Homo sapiens: one gene and its partners. The protein of the gene in region 1 interacts with the protein of each later gene in a biochemical or structural test. Each region holds a gene or a part of one and is shown on either strand. Other genes may lie near its edges. The genes, in order: PLCG2, BLK and CD19.

Region 1 (3,747 bases):
AGAAATGAATCCACAGATCTTGTGAAGTCACAAACGAGTCCTATGGCTTGGGATACAACATTGACAGTGAGAGTGATATTCCTCAATTAAAAAACGCTATAACAGGCCGGGTGCAGTGGCTCATGCCTGTAATCCCAGCACTTTGGGAGGCCAAGGTGGGTGGATCACTTGAGGTCAGGAGTTTGAGACCAATCTGGCCAACATAGTGAAACCGCGTCTCTAGTAAAAATACAAAAAATTAGCCAAGCATGATGGCATACACCTATAATCCCAGCTACTCAGGAGGCTGAGGCAGGAGAATCGCTTAAACCTGGGAGGTGGAGGTTGCAGTGAGCCGAGATCGTGCCACTGCACTCCAGCCTGGGCAAGAGAGCAAGACTTTGTCTCAAAAAAAAAAAAAAACAAAAAAAAAACAAAAAAAAAAACAAAAAAAACCAAAAACACACACACACAAAAAAAACGCTATAACAGACCAGTGGCACATGCCTGTGATCCCAGTGCTTTGGGAGGTAGAGGCAGGAGGATTGCTTGAGGTCAGGAGTTCAAGAACAGCCTGGGACACATAGTGAGACCTCATGTCGAAAAAAGAGAAAATTAGCCAAGTGTGGTGTGCCTCTATAGTCCCAGCTCTTCAGGAGGCAGAAGCAGGAGGATCGCTTGAGTCCCGGAGTTCGAGGATGTGGTGAGCTATGATGGCACCACTGCACTCCAGCCTGGGTGACAGAGTGAGACCCTGCCTCTTAGAAAACAGAAGCTATAACTCAAGCAACTTGGAAGTGAAATTCAAGTGCCTGACAGCTGTCTAGGTGCCCCTGAAACTGCCTCTAGTCACAACAAAGATACCTCCATCAAAGAGCATAGGAAGGGTTTGAATCAGATAGCTTCATGCAACACACGAACGGAAAAATAAATTTCTTAAAGAACATATTAGCTTCTTCCCATGAGATCAGGAAAACGGGACATCAATTGTCTGGGGTTCTTTGCTCCTGACTCCCTTTGGGGCTGGCACTATGTTGATCACGTTTTACAGATGGGGAAACTGAGGCTGTCGGTTTTTAAGTGGTCTGCCTAAGGTAGCAGTAAGGGTTGGTCTGACTCCAGCGCAGCCTCAACGAGGGCTTCAAATTAGGGCCATGAATTGGCAATTCCTGGCGGGTAATTGTGAAGAGTATATTTATTTTTAATTTTTATTTATTTATTTTTGAGACGGAGTGTCTCTCGGCCACACCCATCCTAGCTCATTGCTGTCTCGAACTCTCGAGCTCAGACGATCCTCCCGTCTAGGCTTCCCAAAGAGCTGGGATGACAGGCGTGAGCCCGGGCGCCCGGCCGGGAGTGTGTTAAGTATACGGCAAACACCTGGACTGCGGCCGGCTCTCCAGGAATGCCATGATATTGGGGAATTCCCTTTGCACCTGGCCAAGTGGCCTCGGGCAGGTAGCCTCCCCTCGGGTTGCCTCAGTTTCTTCTTTGGCACGCAGAGGCGGGGCTCCAGGCCTGGGCCGCTCCATGGCGGGGAGGGCGCGGGGACGCTGCACTCGGGGTGCGCTCCGAGAGGCGGACCCGGCTGGGCGCGCCTGGGGCGGGGCGAGGCGGGGCGAGGCTGGGCGGTGCGGGGGGCGGCCCCCGAGGATCACGTGGCGCGGCGCCGCGGCCGAAGCAGAAGTAGCGAGCGCCGGCGGCGGAGGGCGTGAGCGGCGCTGAGTGACCCGAGTCGGGACGCGGGCTGCGCGCGCGGGACCCCGGAGCCCAAACCCGGGGCAGGCGGGCAGCTGTGCCCGGGCGGCACGGCCAGGTGAGCTGCCCGGCCGGGAGCGAGGCAGGCAGGGCGCCCAGGGACCTGCGCCCCGCGGGGACCGGCTCCCAGGGCGCTGCGTCCGAGGGGGTCTGCGTCCTGGCTCAGCCGGAGCGGGCAGGGACGGGGCGCACCCTCGGGGACCCCGGCCCGCCGTGCCCGGGGTCCGTTTGGTGACGGCAGGGATCCTGGCCCAGCCGCTGGCCACTTCCTCACCCCGGGCCGGCGCCACCTCTCCGGTCCGTGCGGTGGGGCGGCCCCAGCTTTGAATGGGGACCGGGAGGAAGGTCAGGGGTCGTGTGGGGGCTGGCGTTCAAAACTCCTCTTTTCGAGCGGCTCTGCGTGGGGTGGCGCCGTCTCTCTTGACGGCCCTTGTGCCCAGAGCTCGCGGACGCTCGGAGCCACACTTCCCTGTCTCACTTCGGTGGTTGCGGGTGGCGGGTGGGAGCGATACCGCGGGAGGCGCAGTCCTTCCCGGAGACTTTTGGAGAGCTTGCAGGACACTCGCGATGCCCGCTCCGCAGCTGTCTGCGTAATTATGCGTGTGTCTGTGCGTGTTGTGTTTTGTTGTGTTTTGGAATCCCAAAGAGGGCATTACCCGCACAGCGCAAGAGTTCAGGTTAAAGACGTGCCCCGTTTGGACGGGGAGCTCCTGGATTCCAGCAGGACGGTGGGGCGGGGCTCTCTTGGTACCCTAATCTTGAACTAGGGTGAGAAACTATGGGGGGCGGGGTGGTAAAGGGGTGACATGGCGCGAGGGAAACAGGTGGCCTTGCCCGTCGGAACTTAATTTGAATTTCAGTTCCATCAGTGGGACCCTGGGCAAGTTGAAGAACCTTTTTGAGTCTGTTTCCCCCTCTGGATACTGGAGCCACCCAATTTTCCAGGGCTGTGTCGAGAATTGGGGCTTATTGCTGTTCCACGAGGTTCGCTGAGAATCGGGGCGCATCCATGGAGAGTCCTTGGGCAGTTCCTGACTCTCTGGTTCAAGGGCATTCTCTGGGGCATGGGCCCTCGTCCTTGACTACAGTTCTGCGGGGAAGTTTTACAGAATTTTGAAGTCTATGCCAGCCTCAAGCAGTTTCTCTTGCAAAGGTGTGTGTGCAGTCACGTGTATACCAGCTCAGGGACAATCGTCATTGTGAGCCTCACTGATGTTTAAGTCACCTAATGATGCAGCTGCCTTCCCCCACCAGCGACTGGAGTATGGGCAGTTCCTCTGGAAGTGGAAAAGCACAGACCCCATGAATAGCCCTTTTGCACTCATTGGGTAGAGTCAATGAAAAGCTGCTGGTGAGAAAACTTTTGAAAACATTTCTTGGTCAGGCACGGTGGCTCACACCTGTAATCCCAGCACTTTGGGAGGCCGAGCTGGGCTGATCACTTGAGGTCAAGCGTTCCAGACCAGCCTCACCAACATGGTGAAACCCCATCTCTACTAAAACTACAAAAATTACCTGGGCGTGGTGGTGGCCGCCTGTAATCCCAGCTACCCAGGAGGCTGAGGCAGGAGAATCACTTGAACCCAGGAGGTGGAGGTTGCAGTGAACCCAGATCATGCCACTGCACTCCAGCCTGGGTGACAAGAGAGACTCCATCTCAAGACAAACAAACAAACAAACAAACACACACAAACACTTCTTAATTTAGAAAACAGCAAGAACACAAAGAGAAAAATTTGCCCGTTACATCATCAGTTAATATAAATAAAGTCAAGTTGTATCCTCTACCCTCTCCCAGCCTCCGATAAATAGTAACCACTCTCCTGGATTTACCAGAAGATCACCTTTATAAAAAGGGAATTGTATTATACTCATACAGTTGCAACTATTGTCTGAAGCTATTTTTTTATTGACCTCACAAATCTTTCCAGATCAAATTGCTTATCTATCATCCTCATTCTTTCTGATGGCTACTGAGCGTTCTTCAGTGCATGTGCACCATTATTTATC
Region 2 (3,747 bases), on another chromosome or scaffold:
CCTGCTGCTACCCCACAGCAGCCCTCCCATTTGTGGAATGTTCCCTGGCGTGCTCCTGCTTGCCTGAATCCCTTCCCCACCTTCCCACCTAGGCAACTTGCATTTGCTCTGACGTCCAGGGCAGGTGCGAATGTCTCCTCCCAGTCACAGTGCCCAAGCCCATTTGTGTGTCCCCAGCAACCACCAGCACACACCCAGGGCTCTGGTTTGCAGGCCTGCCAGGTTCTCTGGACCAAAGCTCCTGAGGACAAGGACATGCCCTACATGTGCCTCCAGGTCCCAGCACCCAGCGCAGTGCCTGGCCCACCAGGGGTATCTGGTAAAGTGGTTCTTGAGTTAAAGACACAAGGGCAAAACCTTAAATGAAAATCAAGGTTAAGACATGAGGATGAAAGCTTGAAAGAGGAAAAGCAAAGATAATTGAATGATCATCCCTAATCGTGGTGCACCCCAGTGCCATCAGCATGCTGGGGTTTTGACAGGACCCTTGGAAGAAAGAGAAGAGGCATCTGAGGCCTCTGGCACATTCCACTTCCTGTAAGACAGTGTGGTATAGATGAAAGCATTGGGGCTTCCTGCCAGCCAGGTCAGTCTGGCTCTGCACCTGCCAGCTGGGAGTGTGAAGTGGGAGCAGTTGCACCCACTCTCAAGCACAGACATGAGAACTGAACAGAACCACGGAATGGGGGTCCAGAGCCCAAGACATAGACGAGGCTCCTCCTTGTCCACTGTGGGGCTTGTGCAACCCCTTCATCAAAGCGCTGGTGCTTTCCACATTGTAATCAAGGAAGTTTTCTCACGTTCCTTCTCATCACAACTAGCTGCTGGCCTTTTTGCACACTTTGGCACCTAGGATGCTGAACCTGGACCAGTGGGAGGCAAACAAGACACACCTGGGATGCAAAATGTAAGGAGGCTCCCATGCTCAGGTCGTTCAAGTGCAGGAAAAGTTTGTGTATGTGTGAAACGCACAATGCCATGTGGTGTCTATAAGGGCATTTGAGGTTCTGTGCTTAATAGATGAAGTGGGTTCTGAGCATTGAGTCTGTGGATTCCTGATGAGTTTCCTGGTGCTCTGAGCTCCGTGAACTTGTAAACAAGCTTTTGTGTAGGTGGGTACTTACAGTTTTTGTCAGATTCCCAAAGGGGTCTGTGAACCCCAAAATATTTGGAATCACACAGTCAAATATCTAGGAAGACTACTTTAATTTTCTCTCTCAGCGTGTTGTGGATATGAGGAAGTGGAAAGGACTTGGACATAGAAGTCAGACAAAGCAGCCACATCTGAGTGGTCTCGTCCTGCAGTGTAGTGGTTAGACGGCTGGCCTTGTCAACCAGAGGGCTCCAGTGCAAGGTTCAGCCCTGGCAATGTGAGCAAGTCACTGTGTGCCTTCCTGAGATGATAATAGTTTGACCCCACTGTATACGAGCAGCCTTACCTGTCTCGGGTAGGTTAATTATATCCTCTCAGTCTTATTTCTTCATTCATTGATAATAGCACATCACAGGATTAACAGAATTAAATTACAAAGCCCTAATTTTTAGGTGAGTTGAAGCTGAGGAGCACACAACTTTTCTTACAGGGTGCACTCAATTCTCAATGTCAGAACCACCAGGGGGTCCTTGTACTTCAAAAAGACACATCTTACATGACAACTTCTTTGATTTACTTTTATGCCCAATATTCATTTTGAAACCTCACAAAGGAGAGCATGGTGTTGTTGTTTCTCAAAAGAGAAAGTAAATTTAGTAAGATTGAGAGCCATGAACCTAGACACAGTCACAGGGCACATAAGATTTCGGTCAATCACAGACTACATATATGATGGTGGTCTCATAAGATGAAGACACTGTATTTTGCCTGTACCTGTTCTATGTTTAGAGACACAAATATTCACCACTGTGTTACTACTGCCTGCAGTATTTAGTACAGTCGCAGGCTGTGTAGGTGTGTAGCCTAGAAGCAACCGGCTATGCCACAGAGCCTAGGGGTGGAGTAGGCTCTACCATCTAAGTTTTGTATACGATGTTCGCAGAACAACAAAATCACCTAATGACACATTTTTCAGAACAGATCCCTGTAGTGAAGCAATACGTAACTATATTTTGGGAACTTCCCCTGTATCCAGATAGTCAGTCCAAGAGCTGTGTGTTTGGATCTCACAGTGCTTGAGATCCTGAGAGAATCTCATTTCCTGAGTCAGATGTGGGCATTCTTTCTTGGCATGGGTACACTGCCGTGGCTTGTGCTGAAGGCTGCATAAGAAACAGAGGTTGGAAACTCACAGTGGAATTTATTGCTGAGATGACGTTAAGCTGTTCGCATTCCACCCAGGACCTCCACAGGAGAAGCCCAGAGAGGATGACTCTCAGACTCCAGATCCAGGAAATCCATGCCTCTCTGGAGCAATGGATGTCTTACAGACACTGTGACTCTTCAAACTGATTATTTTCTTCTTTGTGCTTGGACTCCAGGACACTTAGAACCCAATTTGCATCTAACCACTAGCAGTTTGGTGACAGCATGTCACAGTTTGTATTTCTGTGCACCAGCTTTATACACATTTTTTTTTCTGCCCTAACTTACCCTTTGGTCTAATTTCTTTATCTGTTTTTCTATCCTGTTGTATTGTATGTATTTTTATAAGCGGTCTCAAATCTTTTCTGGAAACACTAGGAAATGAATATATAAACAAATACAAGCAGGACAGCATTTCTGAAAGAGCCTGATATACAGTGAGGGTGCTCACTAAGGATTAGTTCCCTATCTGTGTACAAAACAGAAAAATTCACTGAGGGAGCCAACCTGCAGTCAAATGTCCAGCTGTGAGTCTATTACAGTTATAGAAATAGCTTATTTTTACACATATTCCACCTTAGATTGATTTGGGGGGTGTTTGTTTTTGTTGTTGTTGTTTGAGACAAGGTCTCACTCTGTTGCCCAGGCTGGAGTGCAATGGTTTGATCTCAGCTCACTACATCCTCCGCCTCCCGGGTTCAAGCAACTCTCCCACCTCAGCCTCCCGAGTAGCTAGGACTACAGGTGTGCACCACCACGCCCTGCTAATTTTTGTATTTTTTTGATAGAGACAGGGTTTCATCATGTTGGCCAGGCTGGTCTCAAACTCTGGACCTCAAGTGATCTGCCTGCCTTGGCCTCCCAAAGTGTTGGGATTACAAGCATAAACCACTGCACCTGGCCTGTTTTTTTGTTTTGTTTTATTTTGTTTTTGTTTGTTTGAGATAGGGTCTCGCTCTGCCTCCCAGGCTGGAGTGCAGTGGTGTAATCATGGCTCACTGCAGCCTCCACTTCCCCAGCTCAGGCAATCCTCCCACCTCAGCCTCCCAAGTAGTTGGGACCACAGGTGTGCACCACCACGCCTGGCTAATTTTGGTTTTTGTAGAGATGGGTTTTTACCATGTTGTCTAGGCTGGTCTCAACCTCCTGAGCTCAAGCAATCTGCCTGCCTCAGCCTCCCAAAGTGCTGGGATTACAGGCATGAGTGACCATGCCTGGCTCTACCTTTTATGTTAAAGTTTATATAAATTATTTCATTTTAAGATTCTTTTATTCCTGCCATTTCTGTGGTGCAATTGGATTTTTACATAAAGTTAAATAATACTTTTTATTTTGGCCAGGCGTGGTGGCTCACACCTGTAATCCCAGCACTTTGGGAGGCCAAGGTGGGAGGATTGCTTGAGGTCAGGGGTTCGAGACCAGCCTGGCCAACATGGTGAAACCCCATC
Region 3 (3,747 bases), about 53 Mb from region 1:
ATGTCTGTAATCCCAGCACTTTGGGAGGCCGAGGCGGGTGGATCACGAGGTCAGGAGTTTGAGACCAGCCTGGCCAACATAATGAAACCCCATCTCTACTAAAAATACAAAAAAAATTAGCCAGGCTTTAATCCCAGCTACTCGGGAGGCTGAGGCAGGAGAATCACTTGAACCTGGAAGGTGGAGGTTGCAGTGAGCTGAGATCGTGCCACTGCACTCCAGCCTGGGTGACAGTGCAAGACTCCGTCTCAAAAAAAAAAAAAAAATTAGCCAGGCGTGGTGGTGGGCACCTGTAATCCCAGCTACTCAGGAGGCTGAGGCAGGGGAATCACTTGAACCTGGGAGGCGGAGGTTGCAGTGAGCCAAGACAAGATGGCACCACTGCACTCCAGCCTAGGCAACAGAGCGAGACTCTGTCAAAAAAAAGAAAGACTTGGAGTCAGTGTTCTGTGTGGAAGTTGGGGTTTGGGGTGAGGCTGGGAGTAGCCCTCGGGTTGGGGGAATCTAAGATTGACTGGCTTCCACTTCTTCCCAGTACCCCCACACAGATGCCTCCCAGTTGAGAGAAACTCTACCTGGCCGAGCAGTGATCTCCAGGTGGAATGACATGGTCAGGTTGCCACGGTGACAATAATACTTTCCAGCGTCTTGAGCTGTGGCCCGGGGCAACAACAGACCCGTCTCCATTACCCACATATCTCTGGCCGGGCGATCGTCCTTCAGCTCTAGGCTCAGCAATGACTTAGGCCCCTTGGGGTGCACATGGGTCCAGGAGAGGGGGCCCCTGGACACAGAGTCAGGGGGTACCCCACAGGACAGCCAGAGTGTGGAGCCAGGGGCCATGGTGAGGTCTGGGACAGGGAGAGATAAGACAAGGAAAGCCTGATCCTCAGGGTTTCACCTCTTCAGTTTCCCCTCCCCTCTGTCTCTGGACCCCCGCTTCCCGGCATCTCCCCAGTCATCACCATACCCTGGCTGAGGCTCTGGTTCAGGCTGTCCCTCGGTGGGAGACACGGAGGCTCTCCCTCCCAGATCTCAGGGCGGTCTTTGGCCCACACATACAGCTTGGGGCTCATGAGCTTCCCGGAAGGGGAGCTGGGGCCCTCTGAGGACCTGTTCTTCAGGCCACAGCCCAGGCCACCTAGGTCCGAAACATTCCACCGGAACAGCTCCCCTGGGAAGAGACCCAGAACCAAATGCAGAGACACCCAGGAGAGGGAGAGAGATAGAGACTCAAAGACAGAGATAAATAGAGACAAAGACCCGCAGAGAGAGAGAAGACAGTGAGAGGTAGAGGGACAGGAAGCAGCTCATACTGAAGCCACGAAGCCCCAGGAGTCTGCCCACCTAGCTCCGAGTTTCGCCCTCAATCCCTCCAGCCCCTCTCTCCAGCTCCATTGTGGCCGCGGACCTCTTCTGTCCATGGTGGCCTCCCTTCTCTCCTCCTGCCCCTGCCCCAGCCCGGCCCTCACCGCTGCCCTCCACATTGACTGTCCAGCCAGGCTGCCAGGCCTTCTCAGAGGGGGGCCCCGGCTGGCACAGGTAGAAGCCCCCCATCTGTTGAGAGACGTTGAAGATGAAAAGCCAGATGGCCAGGGGCCTCATGTGGATTCCCAGGCCTGGCAGCCCCAGGCTGAGTTTTAAGAAGGGTTTAAGCGGGGACTCCCGAGACCAGGTCAGCTGCTGAGTGGGGCCATCTGAGGTCCCCTTGAGGCACTGCAGCACAGCGTTATCTCCCTCTGTGGAGAGAGAGGGAGAGAGGTGTGGGCATGGGTGGGGGGGACCTCCAAGCCCCCCGACTCCTCACACCAGGTTATAGAGCAGAGGACTCCAAAAGCTGGGAGTGGAGGAGCCGGCAGAGTCCTTCCAACCCTTTCCTGAATTTTACAAATAAGAAAATGGAGGCTCAGAGAGGGTAAGTTACTCAGCCAAGGACACCCAGCCACAACTCAAGTTTCCAGCCTCAATCCCTTCCCTTTCTGCCCTTTGGACATACCTTCCACCTTCACCACTAGAGGTTCCTCGGGCCTGACTTCCATGGGGGTGAGGAAGAGGAGGAAGAAGAGGAGGCGAGGAGGTGGCATGGTGGTCAGACTCTCCGGGGCACCCAGCTTCGCGCAGGGGATGCTGGGGCAGGCAGGGGCCTGGAGGGCACTCAACCATGGGTGTCTGCGGGGGCGGCAGGCAGTCCCCCCAGAGAGGAAGGCGGTGGTCACGCCTCAGGCCCCATTCTCCAGGAACCCTCCAGACTCACAACACTTGCCTCCTCCCTGCCACGCTGTTTTATTTTCATCCCAGCTCTCACTACCACGGGAAATGATCTTGTGTGTTTATTTGTTCATTTCTGTTTTCTGCACAAGAATGTGAGCCCCTTGGAGTAGAGACCGTGTTGTTCACCACTAATTGCAAGTGCTCTAGAACAATGCTGGGCACATAGACTCCTTCTCAAAAAAAAAAAAAAAAATTAGCCGGGCATGGTGGCGCACACCTGTAATCCCAGCTACTTAGGAGGCTGAGGCAGGAGAATCACTGGAAACCAGGAGGCGGAGGTTGCAGTGAGCCGAGATCACACCACTGCACTCCAGCCTGGGCACCAGAGTGAGACTCTGTTTCAAAAAAAAAAAAGAAAAGAAAACAGTCCTATACAAATATTGTTTGTGAAGATTAAAAATGACAATATGTTCAGCACTATTAGCCCAGTGTCCAGCACATCATAAGCCCTCAGTTAATGAGATACAGCTTCAATTAATGCCTAAGAGCTCAAGTCATACTGCCTCAGTTTAAAACCAGGCAAAAGCCAGGCACAGTGGTACACGCCTATGGTCCCAGGTCCTTGGGAGGCTGAGGTAGAAGGATCGCTTGAGCCCAGGAGTTCAAGGCTGCAGTGCACCATGATTATGCCTGGGAATAGCCACTGTGCTCCAGTCCGGGCAACACAACAAGACCCTGTCTCTAAAAGAAAAATTGTTTTAAAAGAACCCAGGAGTTCTAACTCCTAAATCTGTTCTTATTCTGCCCCATGCCTCTCCTCTCTGTCTCTCTCTTTCTCTGTCACTCTCTATGTGCCTCTGTGTCTTTTTCACTGCTGCAGGGACTCAGAAAAAGAATTCAGGGACCCAAGAGACCCACTTTCTCAGTGGCTGATTCCCAGGCCCATCTCACCAGGCTGTGACTTCCTGTTTGCTGTGGGCAAGCCCCAGGGGACCCTCCCTACAGGTGGCAGGGCCTCCACTTCCCTTTGGCCAGTTGAGGCGGCTGGGAGGCGGAAGAATGAGGCATGAATGAAGGGGAATGAAGGGGGCGAGTAGCAGGACTCAATCTGCCTTTCATTCAACAAAATCTCTCTAATCCCCTCATTAGCTACCCAGCTGCCCAGACTGGCTTTCACTAGAGCATGTCATTCCCCTGCTTAAAACATGTCAGTTACAGCCAGGCACAGAGGCTCATGCCTGTAATCCCAATACTTTAGGAGGCCGAGGCGAGAGGATCCTTTGAGGACAGGAATTTGAGACCAGCCTGTGCAACACAGCGAGAACCCATCTCTATAGAAATTTTTTAAAAAACAAAAAATGTCAGTTGCTTTTCATCTAGCTAAAATAAAAACTCCAACCCAAGGCCTAGTAGGCCGAGTGTTGCTGACCTACCTACATTTTCCACCTCGTGCCTCCACCACTCTCCTTGCCAAGTGCTTCCCTGCCTCAGGGCCCTTGCACTTGCAGCCCTTTTTCCTGGATCTCTGCTGGGGGC

What was found.
Region 2: the proteins of PLCG2 (region 1) and BLK form a complex in vitro, tested with the Homo sapiens proteins (one study listed by BioGRID).
Region 3: the proteins of PLCG2 (region 1) and CD19 form a complex in vitro, tested with the Homo sapiens proteins (one study listed by BioGRID).

Annotation. Positions count from the first base shown.
Region 1 is NC_000016.10:81,777,630-81,781,376, forward strand, and holds the start of PLCG2 (1-phosphatidylinositol 4,5-bisphosphate phosphodiesterase gamma-2), read left to right. Parts: upstream 1-1,661; 5' UTR 1,662-1,795; intron 1,796-3,747. UniProt on the Homo sapiens protein: The production of the second messenger molecules diacylglycerol (DAG) and inositol 1,4,5-trisphosphate (IP3) is mediated by activated phosphatidylinositol-specific phospholipase C enzymes. It is a crucial enzyme in transmembrane signaling.
Region 2 is NC_000008.11:11,497,294-11,501,040, forward strand, and holds part of BLK (tyrosine-protein kinase Blk), read left to right. Parts: intron 1-3,747. UniProt on the Homo sapiens protein: Non-receptor tyrosine kinase involved in B-lymphocyte development, differentiation and signaling. B-cell receptor (BCR) signaling requires a tight regulation of several protein tyrosine kinases and phosphatases, and associated coreceptors.
Region 3 is NC_000016.10:28,930,338-28,934,084, reverse strand, and holds the start of CD19 (B-lymphocyte antigen CD19 isoform 2 precursor), read right to left. Parts: upstream 2,115-3,747; 5' UTR 2,085-2,114; coding exon 1,997-2,084; intron 1,740-1,996; coding exon 1,473-1,739; exon of another isoform or gene 1,175-1,472; coding exon 971-1,174; intron 852-970; coding exon 576-851; intron 1-575. UniProt on the Homo sapiens protein: Functions as a coreceptor for the B-cell antigen receptor complex (BCR) on B-lymphocytes. Decreases the threshold for activation of downstream signaling pathways and for triggering B-cell responses to antigens.